Linked DNA regions of Homo sapiens: all the other regions are linked to region 5. Evidence: fine-mapped expression QTL. A gene starts in region 5. Each other region holds a variant in brackets. All regions are shown on one strand. Distances are between the middles of the regions. Region 1 overlaps FAM118B (family with sequence similarity 118 member B). Region 2 overlaps DCPS (decapping enzyme, scavenger). Region 3 has its middle 16 kb from the start of RPUSD4. Region 4 overlaps KIRREL3 (kirre like nephrin family adhesion molecule 3). Region 5 holds the start of DCPS (decapping enzyme, scavenger).

Evidence for each region. PIP is the estimated chance that this variant, and not a neighbour inherited with it, causes the effect. A credible set is the group of variants that fine-mapping cannot tell apart.
Region 1: its variant is the best candidate, but not a certain one, in a credible set for the expression of DCPS in blood mononuclear cells (TOPMed, PIP 0.52).
Region 2: its variant is the best candidate, but not a certain one, in a credible set for the expression of DCPS in fibroblasts (GTEx, PIP 0.78).
Region 3: its variant is the best candidate, but not a certain one, in a credible set for the expression of DCPS in lymphoblastoid cells (TwinsUK, PIP 0.86).
Region 4: its variant is the best candidate, but not a certain one, in a credible set for the expression of DCPS in transverse colon (GTEx, PIP 0.65).

What each region holds. Positions count from the first base shown.
Region 1 is chr11:126,236,279-126,242,437 of GRCh38, reverse strand. FAM118B (family with sequence similarity 118 member B) reads right to left here. Exons shown (of 9, transcript NM_024556.4): 4 at 1,394-1,646. It also overlaps a transcript of SRPRA not described here. Among named protein-coding and RNA genes, the nearest start is that of FAM118B, 28 kb to the right of the region's middle. The variant C/A (reference allele first, on the strand shown) is at 3,287.
Region 2 is chr11:126,330,846-126,337,004 of GRCh38, reverse strand. DCPS (decapping enzyme, scavenger) reads right to left here. Exons shown (of 6, transcript NM_014026.6): 3 at 5,455-5,600. Among named protein-coding and RNA genes, the nearest start is that of GSEC, 22 kb to the left of the region's middle. RefSeq lists enhancers at 1-15, 16-578, 1,726-2,227, 3,356-3,857. The variant C/T (reference allele first, on the strand shown) is at 2,989.
Region 3 is chr11:126,192,403-126,198,561 of GRCh38, reverse strand. No RefSeq gene overlaps it. Among named protein-coding and RNA genes, the nearest start is that of RPUSD4, 16 kb to the left of the region's middle. The variant G/A (reference allele first, on the strand shown) is at 2,417.
Region 4 is chr11:126,476,845-126,483,003 of GRCh38, reverse strand. All of the region lies in intron 4 of KIRREL3 (kirre like nephrin family adhesion molecule 3), which reads left to right. Among named protein-coding and RNA genes, the nearest start is that of KIRREL3-AS1, 64 kb to the left of the region's middle. RefSeq lists an enhancer at 3,605-4,106. The variant A/G (reference allele first, on the strand shown) is at 2,758.
Region 5 is chr11:126,300,435-126,305,795 of GRCh38, reverse strand. It overlaps DCPS (decapping enzyme, scavenger), which reads right to left and starts at 1,736. Exons shown (of 6, transcript NM_014026.6): 1 at 1,515-1,736. The coding sequence starts at 1,715. It overlaps TIRAP-AS1 (TIRAP antisense RNA 1), which reads left to right and starts at 1,474. Exons shown (of 2, transcript NR_187388.1): 1 at 1,474-1,608. RefSeq lists a silencer at 1,649-1,778.

The DNA.
Region 1 (6,159 bases), 64 kb after region 5:
TTTTTCTTTTGGTAGAGACAGGGTCTCACTATGTTGTCCAGGCTGGTCTTGAACTCATGCCCTCAAGCAGTTCTCCTGCCTTGGCCTCCCAAAGTTCTGGGATTATAGGCATGAGCCACCATCCCCGGCTCACTTTCTTGACAGTGTCCTTTCAGCCTAACAGTTTTTAACTTTGGAGAAGTCCAGTTTATCTATATTTTTTTTTACTTTAGTTTTTTGCATTTTTGGTGTCATGTCTAAAAAACCACTGCCAGATCCAGTCATGAAATTTTAAATCTGTATTTTCTTCTAAGAGTTTTACAGTTTTAGGTATCATATTTAGGTCTTTGATCCATTTTTAATTTTTATAAAGTGTATGGAGATTCCATGAACTCTTTAAAACCCCATTAATTCCTTTTTTTTTTTTTTTTTTTGAGACGGAGTCTTCCTCTGTCGCCCAGGCTGGAGTGCAGTGGCGCGACCGCAACTCAGTGCAACCTCCACCTCCCGGGTTCAAGCCATTCTCCTGCCTCAGCCTCCTGAGCAGCTGGGATTACAGGTGCCCACCACGCCTGGCCCTAGAAGCCTGATTTTTAAGATTTTAAAACAGGCTGGGTGCAGTGGCTCATGCCTATAATCCCAGCACTTTGTGAGGCTGAGGTGGGCAGATCACTTGAGGTCAGAAGTTCGAGACCAGCTTGACCAACATGGCAAAACCCTGTCTCTACTAAAAATACAAAAATTAGCTGGGCATGGTGGCACATGCCTGTAATCCCACCTACTCAGGAGGCTGAGACAGGAGAATCGCTTGAACCCAGGAGGCGGAGGCTGCCATGAGGCGAGATCGAACCACTGAACTTCAGCCTGGGTGACAAGAAGAAGATTCCATCAAAAAATAAATAAATAAATAAATAAATTTTCAGACAAAGCAAGACAGGGAGTCCTTTTATCCAACTCAGTTTGGTAAAATAAGGTGCAATTCCTTCTAAATATTTTGACTTATTACCTCTAAAAAGAACACTAAAAACTGGTTTTGTTTCATGTATAAAATGATAAAATTATCTCCAATCTTTGTGGGATTCCATACAAGGCATGGATGCCACAGAACACAGCTTTTATAGTAGTGATGCAGGAAAAAAATAAATTCAAAACACAGTGGTAATTTGTACATATAAAGTCCTCAACATCATTTCTCTCTCATAGACACACAGTGAAATGGGGTTAAGACAACTGTCCTGAGTAGGGTCCATAAACAGACATTGCGCAGAAGAGTCAAATGTTATGGAAACCTACAAGCTGTAAATGAATATCCCTGTTACATTTGGCATGCTAGTTTTGACAGCCAAATCATGCTAGTTGTGATAGTTAAATTTTAGGAAATTCCAAATACTGTGGCACATACTAGGGTACTCACAGGAGAGAGTTTCTGGATAAGGTCATGGGCAACATGGACCAGGTTCTTGTCTTCATGGAGACATTTCTGAAACTTTTTGCTCTCCTCATCTTCTAAAAGATCAAAATCAATGGCAGCATCCAGTAAGGCCTGAATTAACCCCTTCCAGGATTTGAGGGCTGGAACTTGGGGCGCAACTGCAGCACTAATGCCTGTTCCAATCACTAGCACAAGTTCTCGAGGCTTCTTAGTTTTTAAGCTTGGAAGCAGCTTCCTATAAAAGCAAAACAAATGAGAGGATTGGAATATCCAATAGATATGAGGCACACAGAAAGACTGTCTGACTCAGGTTACAGTTTTTAGCTAACTTTTATAGTTGCAAAGAAGATGAACAGCAGTTTTTGACACCTTTCCAAAGCAGTTTAAAGAAAACAACCAGAATATTGTGTCAGTGCTTGCTGAAAAACAAGTCATAAACCTATTTCAGGAATCCCAAAACCAATCTTAAAATCAGTTTTCCCTTCCTAGTCCTCTCAACCTAAGAAATTCCACTAATATTAGGAAAAGATCCAAATAGACTATAGCTCAGCTGACTTCTGCCAACTAAATTATATTTTAAACCAGTATTAAATTTCAAAAGAAGACGTTTGATTTGTACTCTAGAAAAAGAGAAAAGAACCCCAGGACAAATTAAGTTCCTATTATTGAGAAATGTAAAACACTAGGGGAAAGGCAATACAAAATTTAATTCTGAATTTTGTAAACATTAACCTCAGGCAAAAAAAAAAAAGAAAAAAAAAGTGGCCAATAGAATTCTGAAAACACAGGGGCCCTACATACCTAAATAAAGACATTAACTAATCAAAGGACATGACAAAAAGTGAAAAACATTCCTTTCTTACCATGATAAGCAGAGACAGACTTCTCTGTTCTGAGGCCCATATGTGAGACAGCATGGGTGCTAATTTTTGTTTTTGTTCCCCTCTCTTTCATTCTGGAGACTATCCCTGCTTGAAATATGTTCCTTCACATTAATTTTTGCTGATGGCATGTTCCCCTCCCCTGAAAATGGCTTCTCCCCAACCTTTTTGTCTAAATAATAAAATGGAGAGGATCAGCATTTTGGCATAACTCAAGAAAGGAATAGCACTTTCAAGCCTTGGGAAACCTGGTTTTGGGGACACAGCCTCTAAAACTGCTTTCCCTAACCCGAGCTTCTGCATTCAGTCATTCAACAAATATGAAAAACCGAGGCCAGGAGCAGTGGCTCACGCCTGTAATCCCAGCACTTTGGGGGGCCAAGGTGGGCTGATTACTTGAGGTCAGGAGTTCAAGACCAGCCTGGCCAACATGGTGAAACTCTGTGTCTACTAAAAATACAAAAATTAGCTGGGTCTGGTGGCGCACACCTGTAGTCCCAGCTACTAGGGAGGCTGAGGCAGGAAAGGAAAACCTGTATGTACCAGACACTACGGGAGTCATGTATCCATGAACAAAATGGAGTCCCTGATCTTGAAAGATCAGTCTACTAGAAAAGACATTAATAATAGATGTTAGAAGCAAATGATGAAAAATGAGTTTCAGTTCAGAGCAATCAAGATAGTGAAGCATACACAAATCCACATAAACAAATATACACACACATAGAAAATTTCTAGGATTCACAAGATGTATAAATAGTGGTTAAATGGGGATAGCAGAGAATAAGGACTTTTTACTTTTCATTTTATACTGTTGTACTGTATTTTTTTATATAACATACAGATTTGAACTATAATTCTTCCTAATTAAGACTTCCAATTTGGCTAAGTGCAGTGGTTCATGCCTGTAATCTCAGCACTTTAGGAGGCTGAGCTTGAGCCCAGGAGTTTGAGACAAGCCTAGGCAACTTAGTGAGACCCCATCTCTGCCAAA[C/A]AAAGAAAGAACGAAAAAGAAAATTAGGCACGTCTGTAGTCCCAGCTACCTGGGAGGCTAAGTTCACGGGAGGATCACGTGAGCCCAGGAGGCTGAGGTTGCAGTGAGCTGTGTTTGTGCCACTGCACTCCAGCCTGGGTGACAGAACAAGACCTTGTCTCGAAAAAAAAAAAAAAAAAGACTTCCACTTAAAAATAAAACATTTAACAATTGTGTTTTATTACTGGTTCTTTGTAAACCACCAAATAATAGTTACTTTTTTTTTTTAGCGGGTATATATACCTAAAAAGTAGGCTAGGTAAAGATGACAGCAGACAACAGAGGTCAAAGGGCAACAACATTTTACCAATTGTAATGCAAAGGCCGATTCCCTTGGTAGAATTTTGGGAATGTTCATGTACATCTAAAGGTAGAGGGGCTGGTGGGGCTAAAATAGGAGAATCAGTTACAAGCCTTTAACAGTTACAACTTTCAGCAGGCTAGAGGTTTCCCTTCTGCAGAGGTTGACCAGAGGACTATATCTGAGAACACTGCACACAGCTGAGGGTGGGGATTAAGTAAAAGTCTGTATATAAAATACAAGATTTCCCCCAACTCTCTTTCCCCAGAGGAAGCTTTTCAGACTCTAGGAATCAACTCTGTACCTGCACCCCTATCCCCCATCCAGTTAGGAAATGAGGACGATTCCTCTTTCAGGAAAATGGCCAGTATGAGATGAAAAACCTGCAGATTCTGACAGGTGGGAATTCCTTAACTCTACATAGAGTCTGGGACCAAGCCCCTTATGTACACACAGATTCTCCAACTGGCTTTTTTTTTTGAGATGGAATCTCGTAATCTTGGCTCACTGCAACCTCTGCCTCCTGGGTTCAAGTGATTCTCTTGCTTCAGCCTCCCGAGTAGCTGGGATTACAGGCACGTGCCACCACACCCAGCCAATTTTTGTATTTTTAGTAGAGACGGGGTTTCACCAGGTTGGCCAGGCTGGTCTCAAACTCCTGACCTCAAGTGATCCGCCTGCCTTGGCCTCCCAAAGTGCTGGGATTACAGGCGTGAGCCACCGCACCCGGCCTCTTCCATTGGCTTTTTGGTGTTTTCTGTTAAAAATGGGCAGACAAACAAGGGTCACCTCACATCTGAGGAAAGCCCCCAACATAACAGTTATACCAAACAAACTAGCAGGTAGAGAGAAATCTGAAGGAAATAAGAGATAGTATGGGAAGGAGAAAAAAAAATTAAAAGAAAACAATGATATCCTCACATATATTTTTTCTTTTCTTTTTTTTTTTTTTTTTGGAGACGGAGTCTAGCTTTGTTGCCAGGCTGGAGTGCAGTGACACAATCTCAGCTCACTGCAACCTCCGCCTCCCAGGTTCAAGTGATTCTCCTGCCTCAGCCTCCCGAGTAGCTGGGATTACAGGCACGCGCCACCACGCCCCGCTAATTTTTTTTTTTTTTTTTTTTTTTTTTTAGTAGAGACAGGGTTTCACTATGTTACCCAGGTACCCAGGATGGTCTCGATCTCCTGACCTCACGATCTGCCCACCTCAGCCTCCCAAAGTGCTGGGATGACAGGCGTGAGCCACCGAGCCTGGCCTAGATTTTTTTAAAATTGGCCAGGTGGGGTGGCTCACGCCTGTCATCCCAGCACTTTGGGAGGCCAAGGCAGGTGGATCACTTGAGGTCAGGAGTTTGAGATCAGCCTGGTCAACATGGTGAAAACCTGTCTTTATTTAAAAAATAAATAAATAAATAAAATAAAAATTAGCCAGGTGTGGTAGAGCACGTTTGTAATCCCAGCTACTCAGGAGGCTGAGGCAGGAGAATTGCTTGAACCCGGGAGGCAGAGGTTGCAGTGAGCTGAGATTGCACCATTGCACTCCAGCCTGGGCAACAGAGCGAGACTCCATCTCAAAAAAAAAAAAAAAAAAAAAAAGGCCAGGCGCGGTGGCTCACGTCTGTAATCCCTGCACTTTAGGAGGCTGAGGCAGGTGGATCATGAGGTCAGGAGATTAAGGCCATCCTGGCTAACACAGTGAAATCCCGTCTCTACTAAAAATACAAAAAATTAGCCGGGCATGGTGGCGGGCGCCTGTAGTCCCAGCTACTCGGGAGGCTGAGGCAGGAGAATGGTGTGAACCCGGGAGGCAGAGCTTGCAATGAGCCGAGATAGTGTCACTGCACTCCAGCCTGGGAGACAGTGAGACTCTGTCTAAAAAAAAAAAAAAAAAAAAGCATCTGTGAAACATAAACAGAGTGCTATGAAAAAATGAACAAACAAAAAGACTTCATAAATCAAAAATAACGCAACAGAAATTTTTAAATCCACAAGATAAAACAGAGAACCCCCGAGAAAGCTAAATTTAAGAAAACGAAATGGGGGGGAAAAAAATAAAGCAACACATAAAAAATTAGAGACTTAATACAAGAAGTCCAACATCTGAATAACAAGAGTTTTAAAAAAATGTGGAATAGAAAAAACATTGTAATGGAAAGTATCAAAAAAGTAATATAAGTCAACTTCTCCAAAGTGAAGGTACTAGTTGCCAGCTTTAAAGAGCTGCCCGGTGTCTAGATTCATATGACAAGATACATCACTGTGAAATTTCAGGTTACTGAGAATAAAATAATGATCCTTATAAGCTTCTAATGAACAACAACAACAACAAAAATGAAACAAAACAAAACAAAAAACAGGGAAAGAGGTCATACAATACAAAGGATTGGGAATCAGAACAGAGTGGCTATTTTGGCAGGAATACTTAGATGTTAGCAGAGTATGAATGAGAGATACTAAAAATTCTATACTCAGTCAAACCATCAAATGAATGTAAGTGTATGATAAAGACCTTTTCAAATATGTCCAAATAATT
Region 2 (6,159 bases), 31 kb before region 5:
CTCGCCTCTCAGCTGGGATGGACCGGGGGAGAGGGCAGCTGGGCCTCGAGGTCTCCTGCAACTCTCTACCCACAGGAAGCATTTCAGCTCAGAGGGCCCCAAACCCCTGACAAGACCCACAGGCCGGTCACAATGTGGTCCATTCACAACAAAAGACAGGCAGTTCCCAAGAAACCGAATGAGGCCCCTTCCTGGGAGGGGTCTGGAGGACACCTGGCAGCCACTTCCTCATGCAGTGCCGGGGCCAGAGCAATGCATGGCCAGTACATCCACAGAGGCATTTCCTCTCTGACCTGAAATCTCCTGGGAATGTGATGCCAGAGGAAGCCAGCGGAAATACAAGGGAGGGAGGGAGACGGCATTCCCTACAGACAGCCCCAACGCACCCCATAAGCAGGCCTCCCCACGGCCAGTCCCTGATTCACAGAAAAGGGGCATCTGCCTGTGACTAGTATAAGAGTGAGAGTGAACAGGTTCTGAGCCAAGGAGACCTGGTTTCATCTCCCAGCTGTCACTGGGTGAGCGACTGATGCCTCCTTTGTAAAATGGGGCTGATGATATCTACATAAGGGTGGTGAAGGTTTTCAGAGAACACGCACATGAAAGCACCTAGCACAGCCAGTATAAGGGAGACCCCCACGAGTGGCAAAGGTGGTGGGATGGTATGCCAGAGGCTACAAAACTGACTGGGGACAGGAAAAGAGGGAAAGGCGGTGAGAGCAAAGGAGGTGGTGAGAGAGGAAATAAGAGCGGGGCTGGAGGACGAGTGACTGCAGGAAGGAGTGATGACTGTGAGAGCAGCTGCACTCTGCCTGGCACTGCTCTCAGCGTCACAGCAACCCTGAGAGGTGGCTGCTATCATTGTCGCCATTTTTTTTTTTTTTTTTTTGAGATGGAGTCTTGCTCTTTCGCCCAGACTAGAGTGCAGTGGCGTGATTTCGGCTCACTGCAACCTCCGCCTCCCAGGTTCAAGCGATTCTCTTGCCTCAGTAGCTGGGATTATAGGTGCCCACCACCACACCCGACTAATTTTTATATTTTTAGTAGAGACAGGTTTTTTTGTTGGTTTTTGTTTTTTGTTTTTTCTGAGACGGAGTTTCACACTTGGCTGGAATGCAATGGCGTGATCTCAGCTCACTGCAACCTCCACCTCCCAGGTTCAAGTGATTCTCCTGCCTCAGCCTCCCAAGAAGCTGGGATTACAGGCGTGTGCCACCACACCCAGCTAATTTTTGTATTTTTAGTAGAGATGGGTTGCGTCATGTTGGCCAGGCTGGTCTCAAACTCCTGACCTCAAGTGAACTGCCCACCTTGGCCCAAAGTGCTGGGATTACAGGCATAAGCCACCGCGCCTGGACATTGTCCCCATTTTACAGTTAAGAAGAATGCAAGTGCAAGGAAGTTCACGCTGGGTCAGCCAATTCCAACCATGAGTATCTGGCTCCTGAGCCTGCACCCTGGGCCAAGGTACATCCTGTCTCCTGGGAGAGGCCTCTGGGACAGTGGCAGGGAGCTGCATCCACGGGAAGCCTCCAGGCCAGGGGCCCAGATAAAAAAAAAGGAGAATGAAAGAACAAAATTCACACAAACACAGAGAGCTATGTAATGGGGAGTGCCACCATCTGAAACCATGCCCAAGAACTTGGCCAGCCCTGCTGATAAACTGGGCAGAGGGTGATGCCATCAGCTTTCTGCAACTCACCTGGCTGGACTTCTTTGCAGTAGGTGACATTGGCAGCTCCCTCGGTACCCTCTCTCCCGCCTTGACCTCCCGTGAGACATCTTGCTCCTTCCTCATCACCTCCTGCTCTCTGCTTCTGCCTGCTGCCTTGCACTTCCCCTCCAGCCATGTGTGGCCTGGCCACGTCTCCCAGGTGTCTTAGCTCTGCCCATTGCTGTGCCTGTCCCTCTGAACAGTTACCTAGAGTAGGGGATGGTGGCTGCCATCCTGGCATCATTCTGTGCTGGAAACAATAGCAGGCACATGATATATGGCACCTCTCTCAATTTCCACAACACCCAGGAGGGAGGAGCCATTAGTTACATTTTTCAGACAAGGAAACCAGGGCTCCGAAATTAAGGACAATGTCACGCTGCTCTTAGATGACAGACTGAGAATCCAAACACCAGGCTGAGGTTGAAGTCTAGCTGGATGACTCACAAACAGACATTTGTAACTAGATGATCTCAAAGGCTCCAGATCCAGACATCCCACTGCAGTTTTTACTGGGAAGTTATAAGTACCTCACATCTAAGGAGCCAAATAGTATCTCTGGCTTAGGGCACAGATACTGGGACCAGACTGCCTGGCTTTGAGACCTGTCTCCAAAAGGGCTGCTGTGAAGAATAAATGAGGTGTGAGGCTGGGTGCGGTGGCTCACACCTGTAATCCCAGCACTTTGGGAGGCCAAGGTGGGCAGGTCACTTGAGGTCAGGAGTTTGAGACCAGCCTGGCCAACATGGTGAAACTCCGTCTCTACTAAAAATACAAAAATTAGCCCAGCATAGTGGCGGGCGCCTGTAATCCCAGCTACTTGGGAGGGTGAGACAGGAGAATCACTTGAACCTGGCAGGAGAAGGTTGCAGTGAGCCGAGATCACACCATTGCACTCCAGCTTGGGCAACAAGAGTGAAACTCCATCTCAAAAATAAATAAATAATAAATAAATAAATAAATGAGGTGTGATGCGCATAAATGCTTAGAGCAGTTCTTGGACTATACATAGTAAGTGCTCAATGAATTCCAAACTGAACTCACTGTCTTCCATGCAAACCCACTCTTCTGTTTCTGTCCCCTATACTGGGTCATGAATTATCCTTCTATCCACTCATCACCCAACCTCTTCCCTCCCCTCTGCACGTCAATCAGTTGCTAAGCCCCATCCAGCCCTGTGAAGACCTACCTCTTAAATTGCTCCAGAATCCTTCCCCACTGTCCCTACCTTGGTTCAGACCCATACTGGTTTTTCCCAGTCTTCCTGTTCTATG[C/T]TCACCCCCACTCCACCAATTAATTCTGCAAATCGGGCCATATCATCCACATGCTTAAAACCGTTTAGGGCACCCTCACTGCCTATGGCAACTGTTCTCACATCTGATGGTTGTCAGAAATATCAGAGAGAGAGAGAGAGAGAGAGAGAGAATTCCCAGCTCCACTCCCTGAAGCGTGAGATTCAGCAGATATGGAATAGTGCTCTGTGCTCGGTATTTATGAAAACCCCCAGGCAATCCTGATGGTAAGCAAGGTTCAGGAACTCCTGGCCCCCTGGACAAAGTCCACGTGCCTCCGCCTGGCCCCTGCCTACCATCTCAGTGCTGTCTCCTCTGACCCTCCAGCAGCCCAAGCCCCAGTCACACCAAACTCCTTGCAGCTCCCCCAAAGCATCGGATGATTCCAGCTCTGTGTGCCTCTGGACTTGCTCCTCCCTCCCCTTGTGCACCTGGTAAACTTCTATTTGTCCTGTAAGACCCAAGGGGAGGATCCTCTCCCTGTGAAGTCCCAACTGTCTGCGCTGGTCACTGTCCCTCTGCATCACCACGGTAGTTCGTCTAGGCATCAGAGTGCTTATCCCATTGTCACAATTGCCCGTTTACAAGTCTATCTTCCCTGTTACACTGTGAAGATCCTGTCTAGGTTTCATCATCTTGGTGACTCTCCAAAGCCTGGCATAGGACCAGGTCCATAGTAGGTACTCAGTAAACATAATGAGTGTTGCCAGTTAAGCTGAGTGCTTGTAAACTAGAAATAGCCAAGAAGGAATACATGAACGGCTCCCGTCAGTCAGGAGTTGGAAGAGTAGTGGAGTTTTCATTGTGCTCTTCTCCGAATGGAACTGCATAATGGTATATAATAAGGAATATACATGGCCAGGCACAGTGGCTCACACCTGTAATCCTAGCACTTTGGGAGGCCAAGACAGGCGGACTGCCTGAGCTCAGGAGTTCGAGGCCAGCCTGAGCAACATGGCAAAACCCCATCTCTACTAAAAATACAAAAAAGTAGCCAGGCATGGTGGCAAGCACCTGTAATCCCAGCTACTCACACCAACCACATCAGGGCTTCCTTACTTGAATCTCAGGTCTGCACAACCAGCACAACAGAACAACTGTTCCAGGAGATTCCCTAGGACCCTGAACAGCAGAAACTCTAAGAAGGTGGAGATATAGTTCCTTTTCACTTGGAAAACAGAACAAGTGCTGGGACTTTAAAAACAAACAAACAAACAACAACAACAACAACAAACAAGTCAGCTTGAGCCAGATGCACCCCACGCAAACTGCTGCCCAGGGAGACCAGGGCTGAACCAGGCTGGGGAAGGGGGCTGGCGGCACACAGGTCTCCCAAGGAAACTTCATTCCTGCAGGCCCTGTCAGCCTCCCTTTCCTTACTCCTGTCAAGTACAATTCACCTTGCAGTGCCCACACACACAGCGTACCCTCCCTTCTTCTGGGCCAGGGAGGAGTGGCTGTGAGTTCCTCACATCACAACACCCTCCACCACAGTGACCTGAATCTTGGGGAGAAAAGTGAGAAATGCTCGAAGAGAACAAGGGTGAGTGATAAAGACAAGGCACAGTGTCAGAGTCAGTGAGTGGGCAAGAAACTGACTCATCAATAAGCATCAGTCATATTTAACTCTGAGTACTCACATGGGGCCAGTTCCAGGCAGAGGCTCCAGTTGGCGCTGGGCCTAGGCCCAGGGAGGAGTCAGGATCTTGGAGCTAAATGGCCTTGCATCTGGCCTGGCCAGACGACTGCCAGCTTGTGAATGGAGTCCCTGCACCAAATCCCCGGGGCCAATGGGGTCCTGCCTTCTTTTGGACGAATGCAAGGGGGAGTCGGTGAGGGAAGAGTTTTTCCTCTGAGACTGAGATCCTGCAGGCCGGTTTGCCGCAGGTGAAACCAGGAATAAGAGTCTGGACAGGGTGGGACTCACTCAACATCAGCCTTTTACCCATTCATGGACCCAAAGCAATGGCACAGTCATCCCGAGGCTGGATCAAGGCTACTGCAGAGCAGACACACATTCTTCCAAAGGACTGGATTGCTTTGAGGTCCCCAGAGAGCCTCCATGGCATGCCCAAGCACATCAGGTGGGACCAAGACCAGCATCAGTTCCCCCACCCCCAAAGCCTTCTCTCGCCATGCGATATAAAATGGCAATTGCCCGCCCCAGGCCTTCTGGTCCCACTTATCCTGTCTATTTCTCTCTGCAGCCCTCATTATCTCACAGAGCACATAGATCCTGAGATATCTGTGTATGGTCACACACCGTGTGACTGTGCATGGGATGTAAGCTGCACGAGGTGGGGATTCTGTCCGCCATGCTCTCTACTGTACCCCCATCCCCTCGCCCAGCACAGCGCCTGGCCCCTAATATGACCCCAATAGACACTCGTAAGAGGAGGCACCAGCCACGGGAGCAGTGCTCTGCGTCTGAGACATGCAGCCAGTCACCTGGATGCTGAGGCTCTGGGACTCCAGGTGGGGTAAAGTAATATTCCTGTAGTCATCTCCCGTCTCTCGGATCAGGCGGAGGTCCTGGCGCAGGTACTTCTGCAGGTGTTTCTCTGTGGCAGGGTAAACCACGGTCGTCTTTACATCTGCAATGATACAGCACAGCCCGTGACAGGGAAGCAATGCCCACTCTCTATGCCACAGGCACCACGGTGAGGAGAGAACTCCCACCCTGGCTTTGATTCCCTGAGGGAAGCCAAAATCCAAGAGGATCATGCACCCAAGATCCACTCCCACAGAGTGCCTTGTGCCACTGCATTCACGAGCTGAGCCACACTCAGAATCTGGAAAACACAAGGTTCTTACCTGTGGGTCACTGGGCCCCTCATCAGGCAAACCCCAGCCCTTCCTGCTCCATCTTCCAGGCACAGGAATGAGAGGTCTCTAACTCTTCTCACATACCAAATTTCTAGGTATGTGGCTTTCTGGACCCAAAGCTGAAAATATGGCTTAAAGGCCGGGCGCAGTGGCTGACGCCTGTAATCCCAGCACTTTGGGAGGCCGAGGCAGGCGGATCACCTGAGGTCAGGAGTTCGAGACCAGCCTGACCAACGTGGAGAAACCCCATCTCTACTAAAGATACAAAATTAACCGGGCGTGGTGGCGCATGCCTGTAATCCCAGCTACTCAGGAGGCTGAGGCGGG
Region 3 (6,159 bases), 110 kb after region 5:
CAGCATGGTGCCCCCCAGAGCTCCATCTTGGCATCCTGCCCCTCTCCCAGAGGGAGAGCTGGGCCAACTTGGGAAGCCTCTACCTGTGTGCTGACGACTCGCTAGTCTGTCTCTGACCTTGATCTCCCCCTTGAGCTCCTTATCTTCACATCCATCTGCCTGTGATCGTCTCCCCTTGGGAGCTCCCTCTCCGGGCCTGTTGCTCCTGTCCTCTTACCTGCCTTAGTTTAGATGGCATCACCAGAGACCTGGGAATCACCCTTAACTCCTCCCTCGCACCAGTCCCCAAATCCAATTAGCCACTAATTCTTTGCCAGTTCCATCTAAAACCCTTCTCTTAAAATGCACTTCCCTCTTTAATTCTAATATCTCCTGAGCACCAATTTCACCGTCCCCACCCTTCAGCTATGATGGGATAGGTCTGGGAGGTGGAAGGGCATAGTGGGTTAGAAATAGGATCATAGGCAACCTGCTAGTTCCCACCAGAAACCAAACTCACAACGGGGTGTTGAGACCATCCCCAGGTTCCTGGGGATAGAGCAGTGTGGGAGGGGGTACCTGTTTTAAACAAGACAGGCAAATAGAGCAGCCTCCCACCATGTTTTCTAGGTCTGCTCTCCTTGGCTCTCTGGACTGCTTTTAGCCAGAGTGCCTGGTAGGATATACAAAAACATGGCCTCCTGCTTGTGCTTGTGCAAAGCATGCCATGTGGGTGCAGACAGCTTCTCCCAGTGCGGAGCAAAATCTGCTGGCTCAGGGCAATGTAATTCAAACACCAGCTACCCAGCGTTAGGCCAGATGTCACAAGTTAATGGCACATTCCACAGGACTTGCCTCACTTCAGACACCAGCTGCAAGCTCTGGGGTTTTCCAGCCACCTGTACTTCTGACCAACTAGCTATGAATTCAAGAGTGTTCACAAACCCCTCAGGTTTGATCATTCACTAGAATGACTCCCAGAACTCAGCAAAGCACTAGCTATGCTTACTATTATGGTTTTGCTGTAGCAATAAAATGATATGAATCAGGACCAGCTAAAAGAAGAGATGCATGGGCAAGGTCTGGGAGAGTCTCCAGCATGAAGCTACCGTGTCCTCTGCCCACCGTGTCACCCTCCCAACACATGGATGTGCATCACCAGCCAGGAATGTCACCCAAGCCCTGGTGTCCAGAGTTTTTATTGGGGTTTCATTATGTTGTCGTGGTTGAACAATTGGCTACATTGTTGAACTCGGTTCTGCTGGGTTCAAAGTGCCAACCCTCTAATCACATGGTCGGTCTTTTTGCATGGCCAGCCTGAAACTACCCATCCTGAAACTAAAGCCCCACCGTGAGTCCTCACATTTAATAGCGTAAACTATTAGGGCTCATCATGAATAACAAAAAATGTTAACATCACTTGGGAAATTCCAAGGATTTAGGTTCTCTCTCCCAGGAACCAAGGACGAAAGCAAGGCAAATTATTATAGAACTCTGAGTTTTCCTCTCCATCCCCCACTCCCTTAGGCGTCTCTTGATGTCCTCTCTTAGGGATCCCTTCATCTTGCTGTCCCCCAGCGAGTGACCAGCCTAGGTGGCTGTCTGCATAGATGCCCCTGTTGGTTGTGGCCTTAGGATCCTTTCAGGCAAGAAGCCTTGAGATATTTCTGTTCACTTCCCTCCTGGCACCTGCTGTGGAACACTGTCATCTGCTGCCATCCTTGCAGTGGGAAAGGGATTTTAATCAGGGGTGATTATACAGATGGGTGAAGTTCTTCTTTCCCAGGTATTTTCTTTTTTTTTCTTTTTTTTTTTTTTTGAGACGAAGTTTTGCTGTTGTCCCCAGGCTGGAGTGTGATGGCGTGATCTCAGCTCACTGCAACCTGCGCTCCCTGGGTTCAAGTGATTCTCCTGCTTCAGCCTCCCGAGTAGCTGGGATTACACGTGCCTGCCACCACACCTGGCTAATTTTTTGTATTTTTAGTAGAGACAGGGTTTCACCATGTTGGCCAGGCTGGTCTCAAATTCCTGACCTCAGGTGATCCGCCCGCCTCGGCCTTCCAAAGTGCTGGGATTACAGACGTGAGCCACTGTGCCCGGCCTTTCCCAGGTATTTTCACATGCTGTGAGGGCACGGCCATGGTGACTTGTACTTAGTCAGATACACCCCGAAGGCTCAGCTGGCCCCTGCCTTCTCACCACCGTCAAATCTGTCCACACACATGCCCCTACCTCCTAGATGTATCTGCATCCCGAACCCCTGCATTGTTCATATGATTTCTCAAGGACTAACCACCCTCCACACCTATTGGGCTGTTTGCCTACTCCTGGCTCACTCCATCAGACCTTCAGCAGAGGACTGCAGAATGCTTTGTCAGGAAACAGGAGTGTGGAGACCAGTGAGGCGGCTGACACGGTCCTCTATGCAACATGTGAC[G/A]GTGGCTTCCACTAAGCTGTCACTCCCCATTCCCACTCCCAGCCGTAGACAACTGCTAATCTATTTTCTGGAAATAGAAGGATTCTCATTTCCCTATAGATTTGCCTATTTTAGATGTTTCATACAAACAGAATGATAGAGTATGTGCTCCTTTGCCACTGGCTTCTTTGAGTTAGTGTCATGTGTCCAAGGTTCCTTCACAATGTAACATATGTCACTCTTTCACTTCTTTTTTTGTTGTTTTTGTTTTGAGACAGAGTCTCGCTCTGTGGCCCAGGCTGGAGTGCAGTGGCGTAATCTTGGTTCATTGCAACCTCCGCCTCCTGGGTTCAAGCGATTCTCGTGTCTCAGCTTCAAAAGTAGCTGGGATTACAGGCGTGTGCCACTATGCCCGGGTAATTTTTGTATTTTTAGTATAGACAGGGTTTTGCCACGTTGACCAGGCTGCTCTTGAATTCCAGGCCTCAAGTGATCCACCCACCTCGGCCTCCCAAAGTGCTGGGATTACAGGTGTGAGCCACAGCACCTGGCCAGTATTTTACTTCTTTATATTGCTGAATAATATTTCATTGTATTGATATACCAAATTTTGTTTATCGATTCATCAGTTGGTGGCTGTTTCCACTTTTTGACAATTGTGAATCACGCTGCTTTGAACATTCATGTATAAGCTTTTATGTGGATGTGTATTTTAACTTCTTGGGTACCTAACTAGGAGTGGAATTGCTGGGTCGTATGGCAACTCTGTTTCTAGAGCTGCCAGACTGTTTTCCAAAGGGGTTGCACCATTTTACATTCCCAGCAACAATGTATGAGGGGTCCAGTTTCTCACCAGCACTTGTTATTACCTATCTTTCTGATTACAGCCATCCTAGTGGATGTGAAGTGGTTTCTCACCGTGGTTTTGATTTGCATTTCACTAGTGGCTAATGATACTGAGCATCTTTTCATGTGTTTGGTGACTATACATCCTAAAGAAATATCTATGCAAATCTTTTGCCCATTTTTAAATTCAGTTATTTGCTTTTATTATTAATTTGTAGGAGTTCTTTATATATCCTGGATTCCACTTTTTTGTTTGTTTGAGACAGAGTTTCGCTCTTGTTGCCTGGGCTAGAGTGCAGTGGCGTGATCTCGGCTCACTGCAACCACCGCCTCCTGGGTTCAAGTGATTCTCCTGCCTCAGCCTCCCCAGTAGCTGGGTTTACAGGCATGCACCACCATGTTCAGCCAATTTTTGTATTTTTAGTAGAGATGGGGTTTCGCCATGCAGGCTGGTCTCAAACTCCTGACTTCAAGTGATCCGCCTGCTTTGGCCTCCCAAAGTGCTGAGATTACAGGCATGAGCCACTGCGCCCGGCCTGGATACCACTGTCTTATTAGAGGTATTGTCTGCAAATATTTTTTCCCTTTGTGTTGTCTTTTCACTTTCTTGATTATATTATTTGTAATAGGAAAGTTGTCGATTTTGATGTCCAATTTTTCCTTTTGTCGCTTGTGCTTTTGGTGTCATATCTAAGAAACCATCACCTAATACAAAGTCTTGGAGATTTCCTTCTGTTTTTTTTGTCTAAGAGTTTTCTAGATTTAGGTCTATAATCTTAAATCATTTCTGTGTGTGGTATAACGATGGTGTCCAATTTTGACTGGGTAGCCAGCCGTCCTAGCACCATTTGTTGAAGTCTGTTCTTTCCCAAGTGTAATTTTTTTGTAAGTTGTGATTTTTGATGGTTACACTGGGTCAAATATAGACAATTTCATAGGGTAAAATGTAGTTTTATTACTGTATTAATATGAACGCAGTAAAATGCATTTTCTAATGTTGCCACCGGATGGCAGCAGTACTCCAGCTTTTATCCCTCTCCAGGCTAAGCTGCTACAAAAAATGGGAACATGATTTAATCAAGTATGAAGTATCCCGCACAAGAGCCTTACCATCTTTTTCTAACCCCCTGATAACCCTCACCGTGGCTACTCCAGCGTTGTAAATCTCGGCCCCCTACTTTTTTAGCTAGCCTGACGCTGGGTTTTCTGTTCTCTCGTGTAGGGTGGAGTAGTAGGAGGTCATGTTTTGGGCTCTTTGAGTGAAGTTGAAATAGAATTTGATCCCTACACACTCAGTGAGAAGAGTGTTACATGTTCATTATAAAAATGTAGAAAATATAGTCAAGCTGTCCTCAACTACCCAAAAGCCTAATAGGAACAGGCATTTACCCACTACGTGAGTTCAGTGTAGCTAAACGTCAAGCATTCTTAGCTCTTTGCTGATTTAATTTTGGTTTAAGGTAGTAATAAGTTGCTATCTCTGCTGATCAGATGCACTAATTGATAGTTATGTACAATTTTCACTAAGCACAATCAGGTAAATGGATTATTTCCCTGCATTATTTACTAAATAGTGGAGAGAAAGTAAGAGAGTGACAGCTTGGATGCCTCTTCTACAATGATGTGTCTTCGACACGTAAGTGTGTGAGTGCCAGCCCCGGCTGTTCCCTTCATCCTCTGCTGTTCTTGGGTGACGAACTTCCCCAGGGCAGGCCTCACTCCTGCCATTCCTGCAGGATCCTCTGCCGCTCCCACGGCCTGTCTGACATGGACTGAGGGGTCCTCAGACCCCTTAGGTCTCTGCACATCTCACCTGCTGCGCCTGTGGGCCTCTGAACCCCAGCATCAGAGCTACCCGAGCACCCTCTTTCCCCAAGGCAAGCTAACCAGACTGTCCCAGGGAGCAGTGAGGGGGACCGAGAAGTGGGCAGCCAAGACAGCCTCCCATGCAGGGAGCCCACCGAGGCCCAGCTCCGACCTGGAGCCGCGTCCTCTTTCAGCAGGCTGGGAGCGATTACCATCTGTCCATCAGCAGCTTCAAGGAGCCAGTGATGACCTGGGCCATTCAGGGAGCCAGCCTGGGGGAAGGGGTTCCCGCTTTGATGTGCTCAGCGAGGTCAGAGAGCAAGCAGGGGGGAGGCCCACGGGGAGAGCGGCTGGCACTGTCTCCTCTCCCATCCAGGTTTCCGGGAAGACGCCAGCTTGTCCTCATCACCTCTTTCATCTCTCCGTTCTCTGGGGCTGGTTCTTGTCCTCTCGGGCCTCCCTGCCGCCCAGGTGGACAGCCTTGGGCCCCTCATCCCAGACCTCCAGCCTGTGTTCCGAGGAGCTTGTGGTGGCCAGACCCATCCACCCACTTTCTCTGTAGTTGGCTTTAAGGGGCATGTGGTCATCACTTCATGCATGCAACACCACTCTGAGGGTCAAGCGAGAATCTCCCCCTTGGAATCAGGGGCTCCCCATGCTGGAAGGGGACTCAGGCTGTGGGCATCACCCCCATGGTGGGATGCTCCAACTCCGTTGCTAACAGACAGCTGCCAAGCCTGGTCTCACTCACTCACAGCTGCCAGGGACTCACTGGCCACTGAAGGTGCCACCTTCATGGGAAAGAAGACAGAGGAAAAGAGAGGGTGGGAGCTGGAAGGTGGCAGGAGGACAGGGAGGGAGCGAGCCACTGTGCCCTGGGCTCTGTGCGGTCCTCCGAGCCTCTGTCTCACACCAGGGCCTCCTTCAAGCCGTGTCTGAAAGGCTGCCAGCCCGTCCTGGCCCTGCCGGGGAGTCTGGCCTTTTTCCTGCCTAAAGTTACAGAATTTTCCAGAAGTATCCTTGGGTTTATTTTCTGGAGTTATAAGCCAGATTTCCCTTGTCACCCTACTTCTCCAGCCTAGGAAAGAAAATTCCACGAGAGAAGGCAAGCA
Region 4 (6,159 bases), 180 kb before region 5:
TCTGCTGTTTTCTCAACTTCTAAGATGCGATATCTTGGAGTATTGTGTTCTGAATGCAGATACTGCATAATAAACCACTCCAAAACTGTGAGTCAGCAATCTGGGCTGAGCTCAGCTGAGATGGCTCATCTCTCTGCTCCACATGGGGCTCACATGTGCCTTTGCAGCCCATAAGCAGTGTGTGCCTCAGTTGGCACAGAATGTGGGGGGGCCCAGAGGGAGGGGATGCCAAGCCAGGCAGGGCAGCGTGGAATCACCCATGGGAGCAGCAGGGTCTTCACCCAGCTCCCAGCAGGGCAAAGCAGGGAAAAGGACATAGACCTCTGCTTTACCAAGGGGGCAATCTGGGACTTCTAAGTCCCAGCTCCCCTGCCCGTCTATCGCCTTTCAAAGGAATGAGCCCAGTCTGCTTAGAGAACCAATAACATGCCACATCATCCATCAGACCCTTTACAAAGCATTTTCTCATGTTACATCTTCCTTGACCCTGGCAACTATACAGTGAATCTGGTTTTGTTATTTTAATTCATATTTTACAAATAAGGACACTGAGGCACAGAGAAGCTAAGCAGTTTTCCCATGGCCACAAGCCAGTAAACATAGCACCCAGGATTCAAACCCAAGCTGCCCGACCTTCAAGTTAGCAAAGCAAAAGGAAAGGGGCAGGCCCGGCACGGTGGTTCATGCCTGTAATCCCAGCATTTTGGGAGACCAAGGCAGGTGGATCACCTGAGGTCAGGAGTTCGAGACCAGCCTAGCCAACATGGTGAAACTCCATCTCTACTAAAAATACAAAAATTAGCCAGGCATGATGGTGGGCACTTGTAATCCCAGCTACTCAGGAGGCTGAGGCAGGAGAATCACTTGAACCCAGGAGGCAGAGGTTGCAGTGAGCCGAGATCATGCCATTGCACTCCAGCCTGGGCAACAAGAGTGAAACTCTGTCTCAAAAAAGATAAATAAATAAAAAATGGAAAGGGGCAATTGGGGAAAAGCGATTTACTCCAACAAATGCAGGTGGCTCTTATCCACAAGGAGGAATTGAGGTAAGAAGTGATGAAAAGCAAGGCCGAAGAGTCAGCAGTGGCCAAGAAGTTCAGACTATTTAGATGGCAATGAGGGACTTTCAGAGGATTTGAAACAGAGGAATGCTAGACATTCAGCACATGGTGGGTGAATTACTGGTTGACTGGATAGGTGAATATTCAGACTTCTGTAACAGTCACTCTGGAAAAGCACAGAGGACTAGGAGATGGAGGGGAGAAGCACTATTGTAATCCAAGCACAAAAGGATGATGGCTGATCCAGGAAGCCTGTGGGAATGGAAAGAGACAAATCTGAGCGATACTTCAGAGGGTTAACCAGGCTAGTTGGCAAGACAGGGTGACTGAGAGTGGAATCCAGAAAGACCCCCAGATTTCTGACTTGGTCCCCAAACAGTGGGGCCATTCTCCAAAATACAGAATATGGGGATGGATGGGTGTCTGGGAGAGGCGGTGGGTGTGGTGTCACACCTGCTGAGCTTCGAAGGCCCGTGGACAGTTGGGTCATGACTCTGGAGCTCAAGAGAGAGGTCTGGCCTGAGATGCTTCTTTGGAATTCGTCAGCTTAAAGATGTGAGTTGAGTTCACAGAAAAGTGAAGGTTTTCCATTAGATAGTGTGTCAAATGAGATATGGCCAGCAAGAGCTAACTAGGGAAGACCAGCATTTAAGGGGTGGGAAGAAAACAAAAAGTAACAACCAGAGAGGAAGGAGAAAAGCCAGGAGGGAATCCCGGAGGCCAATTTAGGATGTATCTATTCCCTGCCCAGTGTTACTTTCCTTCTAGTACTTATCAACACCTAACCTTGTATTATGTATGTATTTGTGTATTCATTTATTGTCTGTCTCTCCCACTAGAAGGTAAACTCCACTAGGGCAGAAGCTTCTTGTCCCTAGTGTTTAGAAAGGGCCTGGCGTATAGTAGGTGCTCAATACGAATTTCTCCAAACATTGTTCGGCTACCACTGGGAAGCTGACTCTTAAAACCAGGTCAGCTCCCTCTTGTCTCTACATCCTGCAGTTCTCCATTGTGGCCATTAGGTGGCGCATCTGTATACGTGAGGAAACCGGAAGCTGGGATTACACGCGGCCCAGAACCAGAGAACCGGGCAAAACCACAAAAGGCAGCAAAGAGCTGGGCGGACTACAAACAACATTCGTCCGTTCCCTTAGCAGACATCGCCAAAGCACCAACTGCGAGCCAGGCTCATGCTTCCTGGGGCCCTCTGAAATTCAGACTGCGGGGAGGGAAGGGAGGAGAGTACCTGCCAGGTCTGAATGCCCCCTGGGACAGGCAGAGAGCCCGCTTCGCAGAGCTCTAGGGCCAGGACAAAGGCAGGGGTTAGTGGAAGGGCTGCTGCAGCTGCAGGGATAGTCTGGGAGCTGCTCTAACTCCAACAGAACATGTTGTAGGGTCAAAATCTCGAGTCTAAATTCCAACTTCACCACTTATGGCTGTGTGGTCTTTGCCAAGTAATTTGCCCTCTCTGAGTCTCAGCTTCTTAACCTATAAAATGAAGACCCTAATAGTCCCTGCCTCAAAAGATATTGAGAATAAAATGAGAGGACCTTGGCTCAGCACTTTTCACACAGCCACAAACCTAAATATTATTCCTAAAAATTAGACATAATAACCTACATTTGTATAGCCTTTTACAATGTTCTCTGTGTATCTTTCATATTGTAAGGTAATCCTCATGATAACCCTGCAAGAT[A/G]GGTATTTTTATTATCTCACTTCCCAGATAAGAGGATTAAGGTTGTCGGATTATATAACTTGTCTACAATCATATGGCTCATAAAGTGATCGACTCAAGTCAAGTTCAGCTCAGCAAATGCATATGCCACCCTGTGCCCTGTGCAGCAGGCAGGCACTCTGCTGGGAGATGGGGATCCGGATGGAGATCATGGTTCAGGGAAGAGACACACACAGAGAGATTTCCATAGGATGTGGTAGCTAGTGAGTCAGGGGATGCCCAGGATGCTGTGGGATCATAGACAGAAGCCCTATACACTTGGCCCAACTGGCAGATTCTAGAAAGGCCGCTCAGAGAGGGTGCCCTCTGAACTAAGTCTCAAAGGGTGTGTAAGAGTGACCCAGGAGAAGACCAGTGGTCCAGGAGAACGCCAGCATTCCAAGCTAAAGAAACGGCATACACAAAGGAAGCTGTTCTGAAACAAGATCGTGTAACTCCAAAGCTAGTAAGCAGGGAGCAGTCTGCCCCTTTCTCTGGCCGGCCCCGGGGGAGCGAAGGGAGCAGGCAGCCTGTGAAGGGATCAAGGGTCCCCACACGTGCTCTTTGTCCAGTGAGCCTTCCCTTCATAGCACTTGTCAGTTTGTCATGATTTCTACCTCGGAACCCTTAGAGCAGCGCTCCTCCAGCTTGAAAATGTATGTGAATTGTCTGGGGTCTTTTCAAAGGCAGATTTTGACTTAGGAGGTCTGAGGTGGAGCACAAGAGTCTGCTTTTCTAACAAGCTCCCAGGAGGTGCCAAGGCTGCACACATGTCCGTCTTGGGCACTGGCCTGGAGTGGCAAGGGCCTCCCCATCAGCTCTAAGATGGCAGGCCGTGTATGGCTTCACTCAGCTATCATAGCCTCAGCTTGTGACATGGAGGAGGCTGGTGAGAGAAAGGTTGGGAGGGAGGGAGGCAGGAGGGCAGGACACATGGCAGGCTGACTGCAGGGCTGCAGCGGGGAACCTGGGGATGGAGAAGATGCTGAAGGTGTGGGAGATGCACCCCGAGGCTTCGGCATCCTCCCTCCACTGTAGTCAGTGCTGGAACTCCTAGCACTGACTCTCCCAGAGCCCCTGGGTCTGCGGCAGAACAAAATCAAAGAACCCACAAACGTCCTTCTCCCCACTCAGCCAAGTGTCTCTGATCTGTCACCATGCTCGGCCTGCCGCCCTCTCCCATCCTATGTTCCAGACAAATCAGAGGACAGCAGCCACGGAGAAACAGGCTGAGAATCAGCTCCCAGCACCAAGCCCCCCTCAGCCAGGCTTCCCTCTCTCGAGGAGAGACAGGGAGCACCAACCCTGATGCCACAGCAGCGCAGAGTTCCTACAGCGCTGTCCCAGCTGGCCTCAGAAGGGCTCCTGCTTTGCCCTCCTCCCTCCCACTACTCACGCAGCCCGTTCCCAACTGTACCCAATGCACACACACATGCATGCACACACACAAACACACATATACACACACATATACACACACACACTTACATACACATGTATACACACACCCATACACATGTATACACACATGTACATCTACATGCACATACATACACATACATATATACATATACACATACATACACACATACACACGCATACACACATACACACATATACATGCATATACATATACACATACACACGTGTACACACATATATACACATACACACATATACACACATGTACACACATATATACACACACACATACACACACACAAGATTTAAAACGCTGACCTCAGAAGCCAAAGCCCATGATAACCGTCCCCCCGGCCCCATCCCCACTCCCCTTCTGAGATTCTTTTATTTAACAAATAATATATTCAACAAATATTTCTTTAGCGCCTACTGTGTGATACAGCAATATCACAATGACCAAGATAGATAAGGTCTTTGTTGTCCTTTCTAGAACGGTGACAGATAATAAATGAACCCAGTGATCCAGAAAGTGCAGGGGTGGGTAGTGGAGAGTCACTGAAGGGCTCTTGAAGCTGCACCTTCATTGACGGGAAGAGCCAGCAGAGTGAGGAACAGGAAAGAGCGTTACAGACAGAGAGGAGCAGGGCAAGCCCGGCCCCGGAAGGAGCTGGGTTTGCTGAGCAGCAGAGACGCAGTGGGGCCAGGGTCTGCTGTGTAAGGAGTGGTTGGAACAGACCGAGGCCCCAGGGGCAGCGAGGGCCGTAAGTGCTGGTGCTTGCAGGCAACACCTACTCTCCTTCAGCGGGAAGCCCCTGGAGGGTTTGGTGTTGGTGATAGACCCACTCTGCCAGCATTGTGGGGAACTCGCTGCTCATTGAGTCAAATGAGAACCAGTCTTGCTCTCCAAAGGGCTGGGTGTCTATGAGGTTCTCCACCATGCAGTATGGGGGCAGGAGGGTGGTGCTGCTGGTCCCCCACCCCTCCAGCTGCCACCGATCAGCCATGCTCAGAGACCAACCATCCCAGGCTGATGGAGCATCGAGGAATTCCTGGAAGCCCAGCCAGGTCTCAGTTGGGTGACCAAGTGGACACTGGAGGAAATTCCCTCAGTGCTGTCCTTGTCCTGGCACCAAGAGAGTTTTTCCAGCCTGCTCAGACGAGGCTGGCCAACCTGGCAAACTGTCTCTAAAAAAAGGGGAGTATAGAGGTTAGAGAGAACCTTAGTGCGTGAAATAGATGAAAGCTTTACCTCTCCAGTTACAGCCAGGATGTGCGTCCCAAGCCCACCCTCACCCTTCTTTGCTCTCGTCACTGGTAACTTTGGGTCAGCCTCTTGTGCTCTCTGGCCTCAATTTCCCTCTCCCCATGCCACCTGTCCACCCGAGACCCCATTGTCTTTGGCAGCAGAACTTGGGGAAAGCTTTTGGGGGCTCCCTCCCACACACAGGGAAAGGGACGGGTACCCCCACCGCCCACCCAAACAAGGCAAAGTCTGCAGAGCTGGGCAGGTAGGGGCAGAGCAGGGAGGGAGACTGAAGCTGCCTGCTCCAGTCCTGGCCAATGGGAGAGTAAACTGTAAAGAGCTCAGCATCCCGCGATGATGTGTTTCTTTCATAATCAATGCCCCAGGAGCCAGCTGGGTGCAGGAGTGTCGCTCAGCCACCCCCGGCTAAGGCCGCGCTGTGGCCTCTTAGGCTGGCTTCCAGCTCTGGGGACCCACTCTGCCTGGGATCCGCTCAGTCCTCCCCAGGCTTCAGTGCCCCAACAGTTAATGCCATTTTTTTCCTGACTGACAACAAGCACAACACCAAAACAGTCAACTATTTTTATCTCCGGATTAATCACGAAAAGGCTAACGCCTCCACCTTCCTTGTGATTAAAAATTAGAAGCCCAAACTCTATAGTGGTTGAGGATAATAACCAATCCTGCGAGGGGGTGATGAATAATACATCTCCAAGCGG
Region 5 (5,361 bases):
AGAATCGCATACAAAAAAACAGAAAACAAGAAACAAAAACAAACAAACAAACAAACAAAAAACAACAAAAAACAAGGCCCAGCGCAGTCGCTCATGCCTATAATCCCAGCACTTTGGGAGGCAGAGGTGGGTGGATCACCTGAGGTCAGGAGTTCAAGACCAGCCTGGCCAACATGGTGAAACCCTGTCTCTACTAAAAATACGAAAATTAGCTGGGCATGGTGGCAGATGCCTGTAATCCCAGCTACTTGGGAGGCTGAGGCAGGAGAATCACTTGAATCCAGAAAGTGGAGGTTGCAGTGAGCCAAGATAGTGCCATTGCACTCCAGCCTGGACAAGAAGAGTGAAACTCCATCTCAAAAAAAAAAAAAAAAAAAAAAAAGGCGGGTGCGGTGGCTCACGCCTGTAATCCCAGCACTTTGGGAGGCAGAGGCAGGCGGATCACCTGAGGTCAGGAGTTCGAGACCAGCCTGGCCAACATGGTGAAACCCCCATCTCTACTAAAAATACAAAAATTAGCTGGGCATGGTGGCGGGGGCCTGTAATCCCAGCTATTGGGCAGGCTGAGGCAGGTAGAATAGCTTGAACTCGGGAGGCAGAGGTTGCAGTGAGCCGAGATCACATCACTGCACTCTAGCCTGGGTGACAGAGAGGAGAGACTCCGTCTCAAAAATAAATAAATAAATAAATAAAAATTTAAAAACCAGATACACACAGAGGCATGGAAGCCTAGGCCAAGGTTCCCTGATCCTCCCAAAGGTGAGAGTTCCTGCTAGTAGTTCTAGGGAACCCCCTTATCTGCCCTGGCTAGGCCTCCTCACTAGTTTCTGGGGAACCCCCATATCTGCTCTGGCTAGGCCTCCTCACTAGTTCCTGGAATGGTCTCCATCTCTCCTCAGCCCCTGCCAGATTGCTGAGCACGTTGGTATTGGAGCAAGCTGTGTGTATCTGTCTCGCCAGAAATATTCCGTAGTCCTGAAGATCAGGGATGGTAACTTTCGTCTCCACATCCCCAGTACCTAGTTTAGTGTCTGGCATGCATGAAAGTGCGTGCGTAGAACTGAATTAACAATTATAATATATTGTTCTCCTGTTACGGCTGAAGTCGCGTAAGGCAGAGATCACATCTCCTACAGTCTCATGTCGTTTCCACGGACAGGGATGAGCGAGACATCTAACATTGACTGGGTTCCTAGTCCCTGTATACATAAATGGATGATGAATGGCTTGGGGAATGTAACATGTGATCTTTAATCTGCAATGCACTCTCCCAGTAGATATTTCTAGTGGAGACATTAGAAAAATTAGAGCTAGATGTGTTCATTGCCTTAATTTCAAAGGCAATCTTGCCGCCTTTCACCGCCCCTCTATGCATTCTAGTGGCGCACTCCCGCCTCCCCGGAGTGATAATGATTGGTATTTTCCAGCCGAGATCCGAAAAAAAAAAATCTGCCTCCGAGGCGATGATTGGTTCACTGCTTCCCGCATCCCACCTCAGGGTTGCCTCCTGGTACCTTCCCGTGTAGGAAAATGATTTTGTCCCGCGCAGACTCCCTCAGCACCTTCTGCAGTCTGAAGCCGGAGAACGGTAAGCGGACAGGAGCACAGGTACCATTTCCAACTCCTGCCTCCTTTTCCTCTGTGCTGGCGGCGTGGGCCTCCTCCACGTCCAATTCGCGCTTCCTCTTGCCTAGTTGAGGAGCTGCGTCCGCCATGCTGCCGCGGAGGCGGTGTGCGCCTGCGCCCCCTGCGCTGGCCCCGCCCCTAGCCCGAGTCCAGCGGCCTGGCTGGGCTGCTAACTCCCGGCCTACCCTGCTCTGGCACCCGCTCCTGCGGGATGCGTGCCGCGCATGGCGGAGCCCGCTGACCTGTCCCAGGGCGCGCCTTTCAACCGAGTTACTGCCTTTGGCCCCGTTGTGGTGCCGGCCGGCCCTCAGGGAAGGGAAAAGAAGGCTGAGAGTCCCGAAAGCGGCGGGCTAGAGGTGGCTGCGCAGTGAAGAGGGACCCCCAGGCCCACGCCCCGGGGTGGGAGCCGAAGACGCCCTTGGGCCACGGTAGTGTTGGAGCCCTTGTTTGAATACTGACATTTTAATCATAGTTACACCGACGTTGACCAATTATCGGGGAAGCAACGTTTCTGACGCAAATCCGTGAGCCCATTTGATTCCTTGGTCGATTTTTTATACCGAGTATTTAAGCCATTTCCATTTTTCTCCCATTTTAATTACTTTGCAGAAATTTTCATCGTGGTCAGTTTTTTACTTTGTAGACTCAGTACTTTTCTGCTGACAAAAAAGGTAAACGAATATGGCCAGAAGAACCATCTCCACCACCCACTTATTTCCGGGCTAGAGGCATCCCCCTCCTCTCTATTTTGTTTACCTGTATTTCTGCCCTGCTACCCAGGGATATGATTTGCAGTATGATTCGTCTCCCAGGGTTTCGTTTCTCTTTTTTTTTTTTTTTTTTTTTTTTTTTGCCATATAAAATTATTACTTGTAACTTCTGCTGTTGAGGGTTTCTTTGGTGACCATTGTTTCTGGTTAGCCCGTTTTTCACTGGTGTTATTTAACAGATCTAAATTTTGTGAAGAGTTGGTACTTACGGACAGGCGCGGTGGCTCACGCCTGTAATTCCAGCACTTCGAGAGGTCGAGGTGGACGGATCACGAGGTTAAGATACCGAGACCATCCTGGCCAACATGGTGAAACCCCGTCTCTACTAAAAATACAAAAATTACCCGGGCGTGGTGGCCCGCGCCTGTAGTCCCAGCTACTCGGGAGGCTGAGGCAGGAAAATCGCTTGAACGCGGGCGGAGTATTGTAGTGAGCCGAGATCGCACCACTGCACTCCACCCTGGCGACAGAGCGAGACTACGTCTCAAAGAAAAAAAAAAAGAGTTGGTACTTACATCGCTTCAGTCAGCCACACATTTATTTTGCCAGTGATTTGAGTTTAGGTTTTCAGACAGATCTCATGGGTGTGGGACAGTTTTTGCCATTCTCAACGTTAGCAACAAGATGCAATTTACAGTCAGTTTTTGGTCAATAACAAAGTGTACCATGTGTTAGTTTGATTTTTGGATTACTTCTACCAGAAATATAGATTAGGAGTTGGATAAAAGACTACTTTAGGCCAGGCGCGGTGGCTCATGCCTGTAATCCCAGCACTTTGGGAGGCCGAGGTGGGCGGATCACGAGGTCAGGAGATCGAGACCATCCTGGCTAACGTGGTGAAACTCCGTCTCTACTAAAGATACAAAAAAATTAGCCAGGCGTGGTGGCGGGCGCCTGTAGTCCCAGCTACTTGGGAGGCTGAGGCAGGAGAATGGCGTGAACCCGGGAGGCGGAGCTTGCAGTTAGCTGAGATCGCGCCACTGCACTCCAGCCTGGGTGACAGAGCGAGACTCCATCTCAAAAAAAAAAAAAAAAAAAAAGGACTACTTTGTGTGTGTGTGTGTGTGTGTGTGTGATGCAGAAAGCATTATTAGGAGAGACTTAGGATCTGTCCCCCAGGCTGGAGTGCAATGGCGCGATCTCGGCTCACTGCAACCTCTGCCTCCAGGTTCAAGCGATTCTCCTGCCTCAACTTCCTGAGTAGCTGGTATTACAGGCGGCTGCTACCACTCCCGGCTAATTTTTTGTATTTTTAGTAGAGTCAGGGTTTCACCATGTTGGCCAGGCTGGTCTCGAACTCCTGACCTCGTGATCCGCCCGCCTGGGCCTCCCAAAGAGCTGGCATTACAGGCGTGAGCCACCGCACCCTGCCAAAGTAGCTATGTTTTAACAAAAAGAGCCCATAATTGAGAGCCATGAAGTCGGGCCCCAACACTGACTAGCTGTGCAACTTTGGAAAAGTCTCTTAACCTTTCCAGGTCTCCATTTTCCATGTGCCAGCGGCTATTAGTTCTAAGCAAGACAACGAGGCCTCTTCTTTCATAAAATGTATATTCAAATGGGGTACATGAGGTAAACAAGATAATGATTAAGAACTGTTTTTTGTTTTTTGTTTTTTGTTTTTTTTTGAGACGGAGTCTCCCTCTGTCGCCCAGGCTGGAGTGCAGTGGTGCGATCTCGGCTCACTGCAAGCTCCACCTCCCAGGTTCACGCCATTCTCCTGCCTCAGCCTCCCAAGTAGCTGGGACTACAGGGGCCTACCACCACGCCTGGCTAATTTTTTGTATTTTTAGTAGAGACGGGGTTTCACCGTGTTAGCCAGGATGGTCTCAATTTCCTGACCTCGTGATCTGCCCGCCTCAGCCTCCCAAAGTGCTGGGATTACAGGCGTGAGCCACCGTGCCCGGCCAAGTACTGTTAATAGGACAAAACTGGACAGTGTGAAAGAGCCTGGGGATAGGAGCCCCCCCCCCCCGCCCTTTTTTTTCTTTCTTTGAGACAGAGTCTCACTCTGTCACCCAGGCTGGAGTACAGTGGTGCAATCTTGGCTCACTGCAACCTTCACCTCCCAGGTTCAAGCGACTCTTCTGCCTCAGCCTTCTAAGTAGCTGGGATTACAGGCGTACACTAGCACACCTGGCCAATTTTTGTATTTTTAGTAGAGATGGGGTTTTGCCATGTTGGCCAGGCTGGTCTCAAACTCCTGACCTCAGGTGACCTGCCCATCTCCCAAAGTGTTGGGATTACAGGCATGAGCCACCATGCTCGGCCAAGCTCTTTAGATAAGATGATCATGGACAGCCTCTCAAAAGGTGACATTTGAGCTGAGACTTGAATGATGAGAAGGAACCAGCCATATCAGCCATATGAAGAGCCCAGGCACAGTAAATATTAGCTGTCAAAGGCCCTAGAGCAGTAATGTGCTTGACATTTTTAAAAAATAGGAATGACCGTGGGGCATGGTGGCTTACACCTGTAATCCCAGCACTTTGGGAGGCTGAGGTGGGCGGATCACTTCAGATCAGGAGCTCGAGACCAGCCTGGCCAACATGGTGAAACATAGTCTGTACTAAAAATACAAAAATTAGCTGGGTGTGGTGGTGTGCGCCTGTAATCCCAGCTACCTGGGAGGCTGAGGCAGGAGAATCACTTGAACTCAGGAGGTGCAGGTTGCAGTGAGCCAAGGTCGCGCCACTGCACTTCAACCTGGGTGACAGAGCAAGACTCTGTCTCAAAAGGAATGACCTGTGTAGCTAAAATATAATGAGCAAAATAGAAACATTTGAAATGAAATAGTAGAGAAATGTATTCATTAGCGGCAAAATTAATCAATATGGGTATAATTTTGATTAAAATATAAAACCAGAATTCTACTCTTCAAAAAGGCCTGGCTCATGCCCCACGTGGTGGCTCATACCTGTAGTCCCAGCTACTTAGGAGGCTGAGGTGGGAGGACCACTTGAGC